4 linked regions of the Homo sapiens genome follow. The protein of the gene in region 4 interacts with the protein of the main gene of each other region in a biochemical or structural test. Each region holds a gene or a part of one and is shown on either strand. Other genes may lie near its edges.

Region 1 (4,933 bases), on a different chromosome or scaffold from region 4:
GGCCCTGAGACTGTGGATGAGGGGGCTAGGCTCCAGCTGGCTTCTGAGGGGCCTGGAAAGGCACACAAGTAGGTCCTTGGCTGAACTGGTGCCCCAGCAGGACCTCGTGTCCCTGCACTGCTGCAGATGCATCAGCCCTCCCCATGTTGGTGCCGCTGTCACTTCCTACTGGGATCCTTCCCCTATCCAGCCACATCCAGGCTGTGGGACTACACGGTGCCCTGTTCCCCTGGGCAGGAGAAGAGGTGGTACCTGCAATGCACCTTCACAGCCAGGCAAGCATTCTGGATTTACCCTGTGTAAAGAAGGGTGGTACCCTCTTTCAGGGGTGTGATACAGTGCATTGATGGAGCAGCTGGTGCTGCTGGGAGGCCAGCCTGGAAGAGGCAGCAGTGGCTCAAGTTTGCGTGCAGGAGCCAGAGTGGGACCCACGGGCTCTTGTGGGTGTGGTTTAGAACTAGATGGTGCTTTGGGGACAAGCCATCCAAAAACCCCAGGCCCACATCCACCCTGATTTGATATCCCACTTCCTGACAGATCAGAGGCTGTGTCTTTAAGCAGTGGAGGTCCAGGAGCAGAGCCTGGGGCTGGTTCACAGCTAAACCCCTCCTTAGGGCAGCCCAGAGTAGGGCCTCAGCTGGCAAGTCCACAAGCCCTGCTGGGGCCCTGCTTGTTGGCCTGACCCCTCCCTCACCAGGCAGCCAGCCAAGGTGGTTCCTGCTTCACCCACTCAGTCATCAGCCTCAGGCTGCCCAAAATGCCTCTGACACCAGATTTATATCTTCTGGGCGGCTTCTTTAAATCCAGCCCTTCACCCGCCCCCTAGAGAAGCAGTGAAACCCCTTGGCTAGTCCAGCTGGAAGAGCTAGACCGCAGGAGCCGCGCCGTCTTCCTAACCTCGCCTCGGCCTTCGCTCCACAGTGGAGAGTGGGAGCCTAGCTGTGCTTGATGCTGAATGCCTGTTTTGAGAGTGTGAGTGGGATCATCTACAGTAAATACTTGCAAAGCATGGCACTGTGGCTCTGGGGAGCTGGTACGCCTGTGCTGTAACCATGGTACTCAGTCCTTCCAAAGTGTTTATTAATCAAGCACCTGTCATGTGCCATTGAGCCCACGATGGGGAATGAGGACAGTCCCTGCCCCCATGAAGCTTGTGTCCTGTTGGGAGGACAGACAGGTGGCCCAGCAGTTGCAGCATGGTGTGTGCACACGTTTGGCTGGTGGAACCATGTTTCTACCACTCATGGTCAAAAAAAGCCCACCAAAGTCCTGGGAGTTCACATCTGTGTGATGATACGGCAACATTGTTTGTAATGGAAAGACTGGACACCCCCAGTGCCCATCAGTGGGGGAGTCATTAAATAAACTATGGTATGTGCACATAATGGGTGGTATGCAGCCCTTTGGAAAAATGTAGGTTTTCCAGGTCCTGGATATAGCAGCGTAAGATGGGAAATCACAGAATACCCATGTTGTGCCTGAGATGGCAGGTGGGGTACCCGTGGTACCCGGGAGGGTGGCAGGTGGGGCACCCATGTTCTACCTGGGGTGGCAGGTGAGCCCATAACCATTGTAGAGGCCAACATCCTCAGAGGCCTGAGTGTGGGGAGGTAGGCTTTGACTCCCTAGGGAGAGAGGGACACTTAGGAAACAGACGGGCCCTGGAAGTGGGACATGAAGAGTGCCCTGGCCATCCAGTGTAGGCTGAGATGCTAGGGGCACAGAAAGAAGAGATCTGCTGATGCCAGCCTTCCAACCATTTCCCAGCTTGGCCAAGAGCCAGCTCTGGTATTCGTGAAGGAACAGATCCTGGGTGAAGCTAGAGGGAAGGCCGCAGAGGCAAAAGGAGAGAGGAGCTAGGCCAGGGGTCAGCGACTGACCCTCGCGGCCAGTGTACAGGGGTTGCAACTGGGAGCCTAGGGGGCCCCAAGGCATCTCCAGGCCCAATCTACCTCTGGGCTTTTCTCAAGCTCTCCCTAGGATTACTGCGGTTTCCTCCTGGCGCCTCTCGTCTTGGACAGCCATGCCCCCCTCCATGCTGCACTAATGGCTCAGCCTGGGGCCCTAGGGACCTCTCCTACCCCCCAGACTGCTCTGTCGGCCCCCTTTCCCCCCTACTGCTGAAACCCAATCCTCTGCAGCAGCGCCGGCTCAGCACCGCCGGCTCAGCACCGCTCCGCAGCCCCTGCCTGCCACGGTCAGCTACGTCCCACCTGGTCTGCTGCGGAGTCCCCAGCCCAGTGCCTAGCCCAGTGGAGCCACCGCCTGTTCCTCGGGAAGGAACAGTGGGACCTGACCGGCCAGATCACCTCCTCCAATCCTGCCAGGCTAGTGCCTCCCTGCCTTCCAACCTTGGCTGTCTCCCACCCTCTCTTCTCCTCTCCTTGCCTGGCCTCCTGAATCCTATCTTAGCCTCCTTAGCCCCCTGACTGACTCTCTCTCGCTTCTTCCAAGCCTCTGTAGCTGGTTCCGCTCCTGGGTTCTGGCCATGAAGCCCACCTCAGGCCCAGAGGAGGCCCGGCGGCCAGCCTCGGACATCCGCGTGTTCGCCAGCAACTGCTCGATGCACGGGCTGGGCCACGTCTTCGGGCCAGGCAGCCTGAGCCTGCGCCGGGGGATGTGGGCAGCGGCCGTGGTCCTGTCAGTGGCCACCTTCCTCTACCAGGTGGCTGAGAGGGTGCGCTACTACAGGGAGTTCCACCACCAGACTGCCCTGGATGAGCGAGAAAGCCACCGGCTCATCTTCCCGGCTGTCACCCTGTGCAACATCAACCCACTGCGCCGCTCGCGCCTAACGCCCAACGACCTGCACTGGGCTGGGTCTGCGCTGCTGGGCCTGGATCCCGCAGAGCACGCCGCCTTCCTGCGCGCCCTGGGCCGGCCCCCTGCACCGCCCGGCTTCATGCCCAGTCCCACCTTTGACATGGCGCAACTCTATGCCCGTGCTGGGCACTCCCTGGATGACATGCTGCTGGACTGTCGCTTCCGTGGCCAACCTTGTGGGCCTGAGAACTTCACCACGGTGAGCTGACCTCCCTACCTATCCTGCCAGGGACCCAGAGAGCCGACCAGTCCCTGCCCAGCACCCACAATTCCCTAGCCAGCACAGGCTCCCCCAAAGCCAGGGGACCTCTTCCTTCCTACCAGCCATGGACTCCCCACCCCCCAGTGCCACTCCGTGCAGCCCAGGAAGCTGTCCTCCTTGGGGCTTTCTCTGTCTCCCAGCCCGAGGGGAGCATGTGAGGCCACACTGACCCCGGCTGGCCCTAGGCCTGAGGTCTGGCCCAGGGAGGCCCTGCTCCTGGGGCTGGGGGTCCTCCATGGTGGGACCATTCTGGGGCAGAAGACCCCTATCTCTGCCAGGAGGTGGGGGGGGCTTGCTTTCCCTCTGCCTTTTCAACATACTGCCAGCCCCGGAGGACAGCCACAGGGGCCCATTTCCTTTTCCTGCAGTTCCCAGAGAAACACAGAAAAACCTGTAGGCTGTGCCCTGGGCTTTGGTGGGGATTGGCGGGGTGGAGGAGCTGAGTTGATGGGCTCCCAAGAGCGTCCTGCAACATGTGCCCACTGGAGCGTGGGGCTGGGGGCATTGAGATGCGGGCTTCAGTATTCAAAGAAGAGACGCAAACATACCATGAGGTGGGGAGAGGTCCCATGACCATGTGCCTGCCTGGGGGAGATGGCCATCACCCTGTCTGCCCGCCCCAGATCTTCACCCGGATGGGAAAGTGCTACACATTTAACTCTGGCGCTGATGGGGCAGAGCTGCTCACCACTACTAGGGGTGGCATGGGCAATGGGCTGGACATCATGCTGGACGTGCAGCAGGAGGAATATCTACCTGTGTGGAGGGACAATGGTAGGGAGCACACAAATGAGGCTGGGGGAGGGCACGGATGGAGTGCAAAAGGCTAGGGGAAGGAGAGGAGGAGAGGAGGTGTCAGGGTGTTCCCCCAGAACCTGTGAAAGGGGCTGGGCTGGCTCATCCCAGTCCTGGGGAGAGGGGCTGCAGTGAGAGGTCTTGTCTGGTTGGGCAGGAGACCTGACCACACAGGTCAGGCCTCACAGGTCCCTCCCCGACAGAGGAGACCCCGTTTGAGGTGGGGATCCGAGTGCAGATCCACAGCCAGGAGGAGCCGCCCATCATCGATCAGCTGGGCTTGGGGGTGTCCCCGGGCTACCAGACCTTTGTTTCTTGCCAGCAGCAGCAGGTACCCTTCCGTGTGCCTCCACACCTACTACTTCAAGCCCACACCACCTCAGACCCTAAACCCTCAGCTCCTCAGACCTGTCTAGGGGCCTCTCCCCAGCTGGCCTCTCACGCTCTCCGGGAAGCCTCCTTAACCCTGTCCCCCCACAGCTGAGCTTCCTGCCACCGCCCTGGGGCGATTGCAGTTCAGCATCTCTGAACCCCAACTATGAGCCAGAGCCCTCTGATCCCCTAGGCTCCCCCAGCCCCAGCCCCAGCCCTCCCTATACCCTTATGGGGTGTCGCCTGGCCTGCGAAACCCGCTACGTGGCTCGGAAGTGCGGCTGCCGAATGGTGTACATGCCAGGTGAGGGGCTGGGGTTTTCGTCCCATGGCGGGCAGGGCCCAGGGAGCTGAGGCTGCTTCTAAAGCCATCTCCCCGGTACCCGCAGGCGACGTGCCAGTGTGCAGCCCCCAGCAGTACAAGAACTGTGCCCACCCGGCCATAGGTAAGGGCGAGCCTCCCCCACCTCCCGTCCGCCCCGCTCCGCCCGCGGGCGTCTGACGCGGCCCGGTGGCCCGCAGATGCCATGCTTCGCAAGGACTCGTGCGCCTGCCCCAACCCGTGCGCCAGCACGCGCTACGCCAAGGAGCTCTCCATGGTGCGGATCCCGAGCCGCGCCGCCGCGCGCTTCCTGGCCCGGAAGCTCAACCGCAGCGAGGCCTACATCGCGTGAGCTGCGC
Region 2 (4,210 bases), on a different chromosome or scaffold from region 4:
AACCATTCTGAAAGGCATAATGAGATAGTGAGATGCTTATGCCTACTTGATTAAGCTTGGATGTAGGAGAACGCAGTGTGCAGTGGGATATCATAAACTTTCCAGTTGACATTTCAAATTGAGGGCCAAATAATATGTATGTATCTACAAGCACATGCATAATCACCATGCATGACAGCACACGTGCAGGTTGATAGGGATGTGATTTATCGGCAACACAGATATCACAGCAGCGCTGATGTTGATTTTCCAAAGTCATGAAGTTTCCTCCTGGTGAAGTACTGAATGAAGCAAAATAACATCATCTCTCAATTCAGACGGTATTATTCTTGAAATGTTCGATGTGTATTAGAGCCATACAAAGTCTTTGTGTTTATGTATAAATTGGAGTTGAATCCTGGACTCAGGTAACTGTAAACAAGTATTGCATGCACATGAATGTCCAGAGGGATCTGTGAAGATGGTGCAGGGTATAGAATGACTCATCACTGTATCGAGCTGTTTTTTGCATGGCAGGATATTCAGCATCTCTGACTCCTGTCTGCTGAATGCCGGTAGCTCCCTTATGATCATTGTCATAATCAAAAACATCCCCAGTCTTTCTGAAAATTGCCCCTGGTGGGCACTGGTAGCCCCACGTAGAACCACTGGCCCAGCAGGCGTGATGTCTAGGGTTTCCTCAGACTCCAGGAGGGCCATTGTTCAGGTGGGAAGTGCGCCAGGCCGCTCACCAGGTGCACTGCCCTGCTGACCATCTTTCCTCTCTGGCTGCTGTTCCAGGCTCAGCTGATTGCACAGTCCATCGGACAGGCATTTAGCGTGGCATACCAGGAATTCCTCAGGGCCAATGGGATTAACCCCGAAGATCTCAGCCAGAAGGAGTATAGTGACCTGCTCAATACCCAGGACATGTACAACGATGACCTGATCCACTTCTCCAAGTCGGAAAACTGTAAAGATGTGGGTACTTACCTGAAGCTGTTCTCCAGGCTGGGTCAGCTGGGCAGGGGCTTGGAAAGTGGGGCACCCTGCCGCGGAAGTGAAGGGAGATCAATGGTGAGGAGTGCCGTATTGGCAGGACATCATGAAGTCGTTCACCCCCATCTCTCGCTCCCTGCTGTGGGGCCCTGTCATGAAATGCTATTGTGGACAGGTGTAAACAGAGAGGCAGCACATCCTCTGCTCCTGGTCATCCTGAGCTAAGTTTTGGGTGGGTCCCAGAGGCAGATAGGACCTGAACTCTGCTTGTACAAACACTGCAATCTAGGTAAGGGCACTGAAAAAGTTAAATGATGGTGCCAGGTACAGGCACTAATCAAAACCAACTACACTTGGACAAACAGAGAAGATCTCAAGTTTCAGACAAGAGGTGCTGTGCTTCTCTGGGGATGGCCTGTGGCTTCAAACTGAGCTATTCAGGAATGCCTGTAGGAAGATGAGGCTATCCAAGCTGGTCTGGCGATCTGGGGATTGTAGGGGCAAGCCGAGGGTGGGGTCTATGGAATGGTTGGAAGCCTGGAGATCAGAAAGCTCCACATTTGTCTAGGGAATGAGGAAATACGGTTTGGCTAGAGCAGGAGGTAGGCACAGGAAAGGAGATAGATGGGCCTGAGATCTGGGTCAGAACTGGAGGGCCTGCAAGTCCAGCTGAGGGGTTTGGACTTGATCCCATAGGTAAAAAGAACTTTTAATGAGAAAGTGATCATTTGATCCACTGGGGTCTGTCAGGTGTCTTAGGTCAGATTCCCCAGAAGCAGAGCCTGAGGCAGGGATTCTTGTCACAGAGGTTTGTTGGGAGAGTGCCTCAGAACAGAAGGGATGTGGGAAGCTTGGTGGTGGGACACCAAGTAAGGGTGTGGTCCCTTGGACATGAGCTTCCTTCTGTCCAGAGGGAAGCTCCATGGCACATATTGCAGGACAGATTTGTCTCACCTTGGAGCGAGGGAGCTGGCAAGCCTTTGTACCCCATGCCGGTTATTGGCCAAGGCTGGACAGGGGGTATATGAATTTACTAGGGCTGTTGTCACAAAGTACCATGGACTGGGTGACTTCAACAACACAAACCTATTGTCTCACAGACCTTGTGGCCAGAAGTCCAAAAGCAAGGTGTTGTTAGCATTGGTTCCTTCTGAGAGCCGTGAGAGAAGAATCTGTTCCAAGCCTTTCTCTGGCTTGTAGATGGCTGTCTTCATGCTGTGTCTTCACATCAGCCTTTCTCCATGCATGTCCCTATGTCCAAATTTCCTCTTTTTTTTTTTGATACCCATGACAGACAACCATTCCTCTTCTTAAATAAGGACATGAGTAATATTGGATTAGAGTCCATATTAATCACCTCATTTAAAATTGGTTACCTCTGCTAAGACCTTATCTCCAAATAAAGTCACAATCTAAGTCAAAGGCACTGGGGGTTGGTAATTCAACATACAAATTTTGGGGGGACACAATTCAACCTTAACAGAATGTGTCTCCCTTTCAGCTAAGGACAGTTCTCCAGGGAAGGGGCTGACTGTAAGCTTCAGCAGCTGGGGGAAGCAGACACCAACCTGTGAAGGGGACTTTGTCAAGCCCCCCAAAAATACACATACACACTCTGTTGGGTGCTTCCAAGAGGTGTGGTACCTTTTAGTGGCATATCTGCAGGCCTCCCCAGAGTGCAAGTATCCAACATCAACCCCTGTCTTCTCTGCCCTGCCAGTGAAGGTTGTGAAAAGTCTGTGTATCCAGGATATGCACTTCCTGTGTGCACACCCAGCCTTTTGGTTGTGATAACTTCAGCATCACTTTTTCTTTTTTCTCAACTTTTTCCTTGCAGAGAAGTGTTTCTGTGTGTTTATTTATTTTTAACTCAAGAAAATTAAATGTCGGAGCGAATTGGGGAAGCACTGTGGGAGGGGGAACCTGCGCATGGAATTTGAAAAGCTATTTCTAGAAACCATAACACACCACCCACCCACAGAGCCTCATCCCCTGCCACTGAGGACAGGACTGAAGAAATTAAAAAAAAAAAAAAAAAAAAAAAAAACTGGTGGTCCTCATGGTTGTGTGCTGAGGCAAGTTTGCTTATGTGAAACGAGTGAATTACAAAAGAGTGTAGACCTGTGTGAATTCATTTCTTAAAAACTCCAAATATGCGGAATGCTGAGAAGACAGGAACTCATCTGGGTTGGTGTCCCCAGGGAAGTGTCTTTCTTTAGGCAAGACAGGAATGGGGGAGAGGCTTTCATTTCTACCTACCCCAGATGGTCACTGATGGAGGTTTTCTAAATGTTTTTCTCCTTCCAGGTTTTCATAGAGAAGCAGAAAGGAGAAATCCTAGGTGTGGTGATTGTGGAGTCTGGCTGGGGATCCATCCTCCCCACCGTGATCATTGCCAACATGATGCATGGTGGCCCTGCGGAGAAATCTGGGAAGCTGAATATCGGTGACCAGATCATGTCCATTAATGGCACCAGCCTGGTGGGCCTGCCTCTGTCCACCTGCCAGAGCATTATTAAGGTACCTGAATATGGGAAAAATCAGTTGATGTGGTAAACCTCAAGTGATGTGAAGTGTGACCCCCATCCAGTCATTAATGTATATGAACATATTCAAAGTGTCAGGCACCAAGGAAGACACAAACACAAAAGGCGTGGACTTGCACTCAGGAAGCTTACCATCAAGTTACTGTTTACAGATTCTTCCCTGAAATCAATTTAGATTAGGGGAAGTGTATTTGGTTCACATGACACTACTTTCTGATAGCAGCATGTCCATCACAGCATCACTAGTCAATCACAGCATTCTCCCACTAAGCCCAGACTCAGCCTCAACAGAAATGGCCTCAGCTTGGGAATCCAGACAGTCACTTATAGTCAGCCAGATACACTTGGCATGATTTACCATCCCTGTCAAAAATGTCAGAAATGCTTCAAATCTGAGAGTGCTTTTTCCTTCCCAGTGGCCCTGACTATGATGCAGGTGAGTTTGTCCTCCCTCAGACCCCGGGTAAAGCAACTCACATGTGCTCATTGCCAGAAGGAGGAGGAAACTCTCTTCCAGTCCATGGAAGCTTTTTCATACCTGAGCATACTTCCTGCTCAACCTGAACTGATGCTTATAAAGCTAAGAAGAGCTACTTAAAGGAAAATTAAATGTGAATACTTGAGAAGAAATGAGATTTTCTTTAGACATGAAGCATTCATGTGGAGTTTTTTGAGCACATTGGGAC
Region 3 (4,210 bases), on a different chromosome or scaffold from region 4:
TCCCTCACTTTGTGGTCAGACCCCTGACCCTCCAGACAAGTGCTTTGATCTGTGTTCAGTGCTGAGAGTCGCTGTGGGTGAGTGAAGGTCCCTCCTCAGCCAGGACCACAGGTCCCGGTTCTCAGGACTGAAGGGATATTCCAAGAGGGAGCATCCAGGACTGTGCAGGGGCCATGGCTGCCTGAATGCTGTGCTGATGAGGGTCCCCTGGCGTAGGAGTGGGGTTGGAGACCTGGCCCATGCATGTCACCTCCCTCAGCCACATCAGCTCAAGGGCTAGCCCAGAGGTTCTCGGTGAGGGAGGCAGCAACCAGCTCCATCAGCTGTTTTTTGACCGCCAGCCACCATTGGGCCTGGGGAGGGGAGGTTGGCCTCTGAGCTCAGTCTTCCCCACTGGCTCCCCCGAGTCCCCTCCCCTGCTCTGGTTATCAAATGCATTCATGGTTCTTGTAGAAAATAAAGTGTCAGGGAACACAAGAAAAATTATGCATGATGCTTCTCTGAAAGCAGCTGGTCCACTGTCAGCACTGCCATGATCTGCACATGCCCTCTCCTGCTTCCAGTGGATTCTCTACTCCACAGACGGGGGAGTCTTCCATACACTCCTATTTTTCTCAAAATGAAGACAAAGCTGATCTCTCAGCATCTCCTGCAGGCCCTATGTTCATGCTCTTTGAGCCCTCACCTCACCGTGCTCCTTCCTGCTGCAGGGACTGCAAGAGCCTGGGACCTTCTCCCCCTCCCCACTGATTACTTCATCCTGTGGGTCTCAGCTCCATGATTGCAGAGCCTTTGCTCACCTTCCTGACTTGAGTTAAATTGTTGCTATAAATGTTCATGCCACCAGATCTCTCTCCATTATAGCACTTTTCCTAGTGGCAATTTTGCAGTTAATTAATGTAATTATTTGTATTAGTACCTGTCTCCCGGCTACACTGTAAGCTGTGTGAAGGCAGGGTCTCTTTTTTAAAAAAACTTTTTCTAAGTTTTATTTTTTTTTCTTTTAATGTTTTATTTTGATACAATTCAGACCCATAGGAAGGTTGTAAGAATAAATCAAAGAAGTCCCATAAATTCTTCACCCAGATTCCCCAAACATTACCATTTTATTCTTTTTATTTTATCCCTGTGTACATATATATCTATCCTGAACCATTTGAGGATTATTTATCAATGCCTCCTTTCCCCCTACATATATTTCCTAAAAGCGATGATATTCCGTAACTACAATACAAATTTTAGAATCAATAAATTAATAGTGATACAACATTGTTTAATCTATAAACCTCAAGTTTTATATACTTTTTTTTTTTTTTTTGAGAGAGAGTGTCCCTCACTCTGCCACCCAGGCTGGAGTGCAGTGGTGTGATCTCAGTTCACTGCAACCTCCGCCTCCTGGATTCAAGCAATTATCCTGTCTCAGCCTCCCAAGTAGCTGGGATTCCAGGCGTGTGCCACCATGCCCGGCTAATGTTTGTATTTTTTGTGGTGACAGGGTTTCACCATGTTGGATGCTGGTCTCGAACTCCTGACCTCAAGTGATCTGCCTGTCTCAGCCTCCCAAAGTACTGGGATACAGGCCCGAGCCACTGCGCCCGGCCTAGATGTTAGGTTTTGCCAGTTGTCTTAGTGATGTCCTTTTTTATAGCAAAAAAAAAAAAACTCTTATAAATGGGTTGCGTACGGTTGTCATGTCTCGTTAGTTTCCTTTAAACTAAGACAGTTCCCCAATTGTTCTTGGTCCTTCAGGACCTTGACTTTTTTTGTTGTTGTTGTTCCAAGATGGAGTCTCGCTCTGTCGCCCAGGCTGGAGTGCAGTGGCTCAGTCTCAGCTCACTGCAGCATCCGACTCCTGGGTTCAAGCAATTCTCCTGCCTCAGCCTCCTGAGTAGCTGGGATTACAGGCATGTGCCACCACGCCCGGCTAATTTTTTGTATTTTTAGTAGAGACGGGATTTCTCCGTGTTGGTCAGGCTGGTCTCCAACTCCCGACCTCAGGTGATCCGCCCACCTCGGCCTCCCAAAGTGCTGGGATTACAGGCGTGAGCCACCATGCCCAGCCAGACCTTGACGTTTTTGGAAAGTACAAGCCAATTATTTTGTAGAATGCCCCTCACATTGAGTCTGTTTTAACTCACCATTTTGTCCCCAGTGCCAAGCACAGTCCCTGGACCATCAAATGCACTCAGTAAATATTTGTTGAATGAGGAGAGGGAGAGATGGAAGGAGGTGCAAGGGGAAAAGTCAGCAGGTTTTCTGCTTTCTTCCAGCCCCACGCCTTTCCCTGCTGAGTGATGTGGGGTTTTTTTTGTTTTGTTTTTGTTTTGTTTTTTTTGAGATGGAGTCTTGCTCTGTCACCCAGGCTAGAGTGCAGTGGCGCGATCTCGGCTCACTGCAACCTCTGCCTCCTGGGTTCAAGTGATTCTCCTGCCTCAACCTCCCAAGTAACTGAGATTACAGGTGTCCACGACCACGCCCAGCTAATTTTTTGTATTTTTAATAGAGATGAGGTTTTGCCATGTTGGCCAGGCTGGTCTAGAACTCCTGACCTCAAGTGATCCACCTACCTCGGCCTCCCAAAGTGCTGGGATTATAGGCATGAGCCACCCCACCCGGCCTGGATGTTGTTATTTAGTTGCAGTCATACTGTATACAGGTTTGAATCCTGCTATTTTTATAACAAAGCTTTCCCCAAAAAAGAGAGGCTTCCTGAGAAGATAGTGAGCCTGCTGTCCTTGCAGATATACAAGCAGAAGCCAGATGATGGTTTGGCAGGGATACTGGAGAGGCAAATGGAATGTTTGATGAGGGGTGAGACTCATCAGGCTGGGCGTCCCTGCTAATCATGGGTAGACTTCTCTAACTGCAGCACTGACTTCACAGGCCTAGGCCCCCAAGAACAGTGCAACTAGAATTTATCATCCCAACCAGAACAATTTGAGAATAAAAAGGGGTCCTATTAATAATTGCACATGACTGACGGGTCTAAGCCGGGACTGCCCTAGGTAAATCCGGACGTGTGGTCACGTCCGGATTTAAGAGTGACTTCGAGGTTGAGATCAGTGCAGGGTGAGCCAGCATGGAAAACCCTCTAGCACTAGGAATCTTCTACCTGGATAAAGACAAAACTAACCTCTGCATGGCCTGCAGGCCTGATGTTTGTGGCTTTGGTCCCCACACCTCTGTGGTCCCACCTCCAGTAGGATGCCACTCCCAGCTTTGTGCCTGCCACACCGGCCTTTTGTCAGCTCTCACCTCACTATGGTACCTGTCTGCCACAAGGACTGGCAGAGTCTGGAACGTCACTCACATACCCTGGCTGGATGGAGGAGCAGGGACAGAGTTTATGATAGATGGACAGGGAGATGAACAAGCCAGCTGTGCTTCCCACTGACCAATTTCTAATAGAATTTAAGAGCCAGGGTGTGTAAGCAAAGAAGGGCAGGAGGCGGGAGTCACCCTAGACCTTATCTTCTTTCCTCTAGTGCTCACACTTCCACCTCTTCTTCCTGCACCAACGCCCACATCCCTGTTCCAGCCCTAGTTCTGAGATGATGACTAAGTCACTGACCTTTGGCAAAGGCAGGGAAGCAGGTGGCATTGGGGACCCAGGCAGAAGAGGATGGGCATTGGATGGACAGTAGATGCAGACAGGGACTTGGATGCAGAGAAACCAGGCAGGAAACCAGCATCTAGGGATCCCAGTAACAAGGTCACTACAGGGCCATTTATCAGGAAGTCTAGATTTGTAATATCAAGTGACCAGACACTCGGTCAAGGGGTCAGGCTCTGGGATCCATACAGTCTGGTTCTTTAACTTATTTTCTGCCTAGAAGAAAATACAAACCTTGCCTTCCTGGATTACAAATTATTATAGGATGAAAATGTGAAGATAATGGAGCTATTTTCTGGGAAGCATCCCAGTCATGTGAACTTTAAGAACACTGTCCAGTGCAGTCGTGTTTTTATTACTCTAGGCATCAGCAGCTTTAATGGAAAAGCCAGTTAGTAAAGGAATGTTCCGGTTCCTAGAATGCAAGATACTAGTACTGCTGAATGTTGGAAAGATTTTCTGGTTAACTGTGTTATTAGATTTTACTGCTTAAAAATGTACTTTCAGCCTGGTGCGGTGGCTCATGCCTGTAATCCTAGCACTTTGGGAGGCAGAGGCGGGTGGATCACCTGAGGTCAGGAGTTCGAGACCAGACTG
Region 4 (4,920 bases):
CTTTAAGTGACTTTTCCTGGTCTCAAAGGTAAAGAGATTGAATTATTTTTTGTCTCTCCCAAAATATTTAGGAACATAGCTCTCCAGACTGTTTTTTCCTCTCTCTTCCTCTCTCTCTCTCTCTCTCTCTACGCACACACACAGACGCACACACACAGACACACACACAGAATCTTACATACTACAATTTACATAAATGTCAGTTATTTTTAATTGTGACAGTTATTTTTAATGATAGATCTGTGCCAAATGTGATACTTTAATTTTCATGCAGTTTCTTTTTTAAACATTTTTATTACAGAAAGCTTGTTACTGTGGAGAAGCAGGATAATGAAACATTTGGATTTGAAATTCAGGTGGGCAATTTTCACATTTTCTAGACTTCCAAGGAAGAAAGTGGCACCGGTAGTGTCATGTTATGTGCAAAGAAAAAATGAAGTTAGGATTAGAGAATGATGGAGCCTATGACTTTTATTCAGTGTGTGGCTGTTTGGGGGTAGTTTTTCAGTGTGTTGAGTACTATTAAGGAAAGAAAACATTGAAGATGATAACAAAACCTCTGCGATATGCTCAGCAGTTTGTGCTTAGTTGCTTCAGTCTTCCCTTAAGTCCCAGACTGATCAGCTAGGTTGGTATCAGCTAGGTCTTAGATAAGAGAGTGAAATACATTTTACAGATGTGTACTTGATATATTTGCATGTGTTTTGTATAATCATATTGTTATACTGTGTATCAGATTTTAAGTATTTACTTTGGCATTCAAGAGACACTCGAAAGACTATACATCTGTGTATATAGAATGCATATATTCATGGATAGCTCCTGGTATGTTTTGCAACTAGAGTTCATATTGTACATAATGAGCAATTTGTAGCTTTTTTTCCTAATGACAATGCTTTATAATTGTTATTTGAAACACTTGAGAACATTTGGCTCTACTTGCAGATTGCCTCATGCTGTAGGAAATTTTTAAGTCTTTATAAGTTTCAGCATAATTGCCTAAGAATTTCATTGCTTATTAGCTGTCTGCTTTTTCATGAGCACATTTGTAAAATGGGTGAGGTAGGTCAAATGAAGTCTAACCCAATTAAGTGCAACAGTAGTAGCTTAAGCATTTCTGTTTTTTTTTTCCATAGTACGTTTGCATGTCTTTTGGATGTGTTTTGCATAATCATATTCTTACACTCTATATCAGATTTTAGATCTTAGCTTTACTGCTGCTTTCAGAAAACTCTGGTGTGATATCAGCCCCACAATTGGAAAGTCAGTGTTTATTTTAAGATTAGGAACAGGAAACTGCTAAGAAAAACATGTTTTATGAGTAAAGAAACAAAATGGAACTTTAGCTGCAATGAAGACAGAGAAGGCACTTTGAAAAGAGGATCACTTCTACTTTCCTAACTCCTGTACTTTTAAATTTGGAGGAATCTGTAATTCACCACAGTAACTGGTGAAATCTATAGGTTTTAGAAGCATAGTGCTCCCTCTTACTCCCCGGTCATATGAACTACTCCCTATTCTGTTGTAGAGACACTGCTTTTTGTCACTGCTTCTTTTTAAAGGAAAATTATCCTCAAGGATGTGCAGCAGTGGCTACTGAAAACTGGATAAACGACTACTCACCTTTCTTTATTTTTCTTATACTGCCATAATAATGTCACTACTTTCTTAAGTTTTTCTCCCATACCATAAACACTTATTCTCCGTGGAGCAAGAGTCAAAACTATGTCAGGCCACAACACCACTGAACTTTTGTAGATCAACATGAACTAATGGCACCTCTAAATGGCAGCATGTAGGTGTTATCTCAGTGATGCAGGAACCCACACTCCTGTAAATTCCCTCTGGTATATGCTCTCCATTGTCAAATACACACCATAATCTATTCCCTAGTACTCATCAGATTTGCAGCAGTTAACAAATAGGAGACATGCTTCTGGGAACTTTTTGAAAATCAGATAGAACCTCATGTACCCATATTGTGCATGCAGTGTGAGTACATGTTTGGGATGTGGCCTACTAGAGGAATGACACTTTGGAAGAGACCAGATCCATGGTTCTCCATGGGAGCTAGTTTTATGCTGCTTATCAGAATCGTGCAGCCCAATAGGAATGCAGACTTTGGACTCATGCACACCTGAATTCATATCCTCCTAATGCCTTATGGGGTCCTTAGGAGTTTTAAATGAAATAATACATGCAATGTACCTAGTGATGTGCCTTACCAATAGAAGATCCACAAATGACAGGTGTTAGAATGAATGTCACTGGGCATGAGAAAGGACAATGAGATCTTTGTGTCTCTAAGAAATGCAGGTGATCATTGTGTCACTGATCCCTTAATGGGAGCTAGAAGACTGGGTAAGAGAAAAAAGCATCCAATTAATACTTTCTGTAGCTTTGGGGTTTCTGTTTTTTTCTATTTCTAACTACCATATTTTACACCCAATGTGAACATATATGGAGGTGCCAGCTACATAAATCAACATGTTTCTACTGCACTGTACTTACTTTGATCTCTGGGAATGGAGGGTAGAGTCTCACTGCTAATGAGAATTGTTAGAACAGTGGTTTCCCAAAGGAGTGTCAGTTGTATATTTTATTCATGTACCACATGAACTAGATCAGTCTTTCATCTCCAGAAGGGTCTAGGCTATACTGAGAAGACCCCTGGCAGGAAAGCTGTCAATGAAGTTTCTGACATAGATGGGAACATAGTGCATGATCTTTTAAAGTCCCTTCTACCTTTAAGATATGGGGATTCTAAGTGCCTTATAGATTAGATAGAAGTCCTTTAGAGGTGAACAGACCCAAGTTTCTAGAAGTTGCTTGCATGTGGCTGACTTGTGATGCCTCAGGGATTATTGAATAAGAAAGAATGAACATCAGACATCAATTTTTTCACAAGGAAGTACTACTTTAATGTAGCTTAATTTTAGGAATCAGATGTTTAAAAGACGTACTCTACTCAGAACACTGATTTTGCTTCTAAGTGGAACTAGACTTCATAATTTAAATGTGTGAAAAAAAGAAAATTATATTTGTTATAGGTCATTGGGACACTATATCTAGCAAACATTTATTCAGTGTTTTGGTATAATTAAAAATAAAAAAACCCACCACCACCAAACTACTTGTGCCTAATTGAGGCAAGAGTTGAAGCTTAACTTTTTCTAATTTAGTTGGGTGACTAATGAACCGGTGAGGATTCAGGACAGGCATACCAGAGGGTGCTCAGAAATGAAGGTAATTGAGTCAATTATAGTACTTTTGAATAAATGCAGGGCAGATTGTCATTATGTGCAGAACTCTGATTTAAAATAATCATTGTTGGCATGTCTCCTTGCTGCATGTGTACAATTTCATACTCCTATAATGAGTGTTTTAGCTTGGGAGAACCACTTAGGGATTTTTCTCATTGCACTTGGCCATCGTTGTTTTATCCCATTGGGAAATGAGAAACTCAATTTTTAAAAATAAATCGTGATAGCATCAGGTGATATCTTGGGCTTGAAAATATAAAATCTTGAGCCACTCTCATTTCACTTTCTTTCTCATGACAGATGTCTTTATGAATGGAGTTGGCTACAGATTGTCTGGTAGAATTGCAAAATTGATACCTTGATTTAGTTTATAGTGGAAATCCTTTGTCCTTTGAACTTACCTATTATACTGCTTAATGATAATTGACATCATTTTAAATTTTGGCAAATAGATGTTGAGGTTGTTAAATAGTAACTATATATCATCTTAATTTTTACAGTCTTACAGGCCCCAGAATCAGAATGCCTGCTCCTCGGAAATGTTCACTTTGATATGCAAAATACAGGAGGACAGCCCAGCTCACTGTGCTGGCCTGCAAGCTGGTAACTTAAATTTTTGCTCATGTTAGGAATCATTTAAATGGAAAGAAAATAAAATGTTTTGAGAGTGAAGGTCAGGATGTATTTGTTGCTTTGAGTTTTCTTGGCTCCTTTATGTTTTTAAGACTTGGAGCTGCTTGTTTCATTTGCATGTCAGGAGGGATTATTTAACTAACCAACATAACACTCATTTTTCTTGGCATCTCCCAGGTGATGTCCTTGCAAATATCAATGGTGTGAGCACAGAAGGTTTTACCTACAAACAAGTCGTTGACCTGATCAGATCGTCCGGAAACCTGCTAACGTAACTATCTGTCTAGTTCCCGTGGGGCTTCAAAATGTTATGTTTTCTCATAAAGCCTGATGAGTGAATAAATAGGCCTTTTGTTCAGCATTACAAGACGGAGTGAGGCAGTGCACCGGAGCTTTAGAGTGGGGTACAAACATTATCAGTTCCTTTTGTTTCTCAAGATTCCTCACACTTGAACATACTGTCAACATCTGAAGTCAGAGGACATCAATAGCCCAAACGTCTGTGTGGGAAGGATGGCCTTTACAAATGTATTTTTTTAATGTCAAATTCAATTAAACTGGCACACATTCTCTTTAAACTGGGAAGAACTGATCCAATTTTCATGGTTGATATAATCCTGTAGCTAAAACAAATCAAAGGTCAGAAGGGCTGAGTTTTTCCTCTTATGTGACAAGCCACCTGTTTTTCTCTTCTAGTGTTCCATTTGGAAGGAAGAATAGTCTGTTCAACCCTCCCCACCCTGAAACACACATACTCACACCACATGTTCCAAATGTTCCAAACTTCTTTTTTTTTTTTTTTTTTTTGAGACGGAGTCTCGCTCTGTCGCCCTGGATGGAGTGCAGTGGCGCGATCTTGGCTCACTGCAAGCTCTGCCTCCCAGGTTCACGCCATTCTCCTGCCTCAGCCTCCCTAGTAGCTGGGACTACAGGCGCCCACCACCATGCCCGGCTAATTTTTTGTATTTTTAGTAGAGACGGGGTTTCATCGTGTTAGCCAGGATGGTCTCAATCTCCTGACCTC

Evidence for each region. The genes of interacting proteins can lie anywhere in the genome.
Region 1: the proteins of CYTIP (region 4) and ASIC3 interact in a test that uses a peptide from one of them, tested with the Homo sapiens proteins (one large-scale study listed by IntAct).
Region 2: the proteins of CYTIP (region 4) and APBA1 interact in a test that uses a peptide from one of them, tested with the Homo sapiens proteins (one large-scale study listed by IntAct).
Region 3: the proteins of CYTIP (region 4) and PTPN3 interact in a test that uses a peptide from one of them, tested with the Homo sapiens proteins (one large-scale study listed by IntAct).

The regions. Positions count from the first base shown.
Region 1 is NC_000007.14:151,046,398-151,051,330, forward strand, and holds the start of ASIC3 (acid-sensing ion channel 3), read left to right. Parts: upstream 1-2,133; 5' UTR 2,134-2,488; coding exon 2,489-3,022; intron 3,023-3,708; coding exon 3,709-3,859; intron 3,860-4,083; coding exon 4,084-4,211; intron 4,212-4,360; coding exon 4,361-4,556; intron 4,557-4,641; coding exon 4,642-4,698; intron 4,699-4,774; coding exon 4,775-4,922; intron 4,923-4,933. UniProt on the Homo sapiens protein: Forms pH-gated heterotrimeric sodium channels that act as postsynaptic excitatory receptors in the nervous system. Upon extracellular acidification, these channels generate a biphasic current with a fast inactivating and a slow sustained phase.
Region 2 is NC_000009.12:69,448,872-69,453,081, reverse strand, and holds part of APBA1 (amyloid-beta A4 precursor protein-binding family A member 1), read left to right. Parts: intron 1-780; coding exon 781-960; intron 961-3,285; coding exon 3,286-3,498; intron 3,499-4,210. UniProt on the Homo sapiens protein: Putative function in synaptic vesicle exocytosis by binding to Munc18-1, an essential component of the synaptic vesicle exocytotic machinery. May modulate processing of the amyloid-beta precursor protein (APP) and hence formation of APP-beta.
Region 3 is NC_000009.12:109,488,308-109,492,517, reverse strand, and holds part of PTPN3 (tyrosine-protein phosphatase non-receptor type 3), read left to right. Parts: intron 1-4,210.
Region 4 is NC_000002.12:157,429,806-157,434,725, reverse strand, and holds part of CYTIP (cytohesin-interacting protein), read left to right. Parts: coding exon 1-28; intron 29-301; coding exon 302-356; intron 357-3,763; coding exon 3,764-3,866; intron 3,867-4,073; coding exon 4,074-4,167; intron 4,168-4,920. UniProt on the Homo sapiens protein: By its binding to cytohesin-1 (CYTH1), it modifies activation of ARFs by CYTH1 and its precise function may be to sequester CYTH1 in the cytoplasm.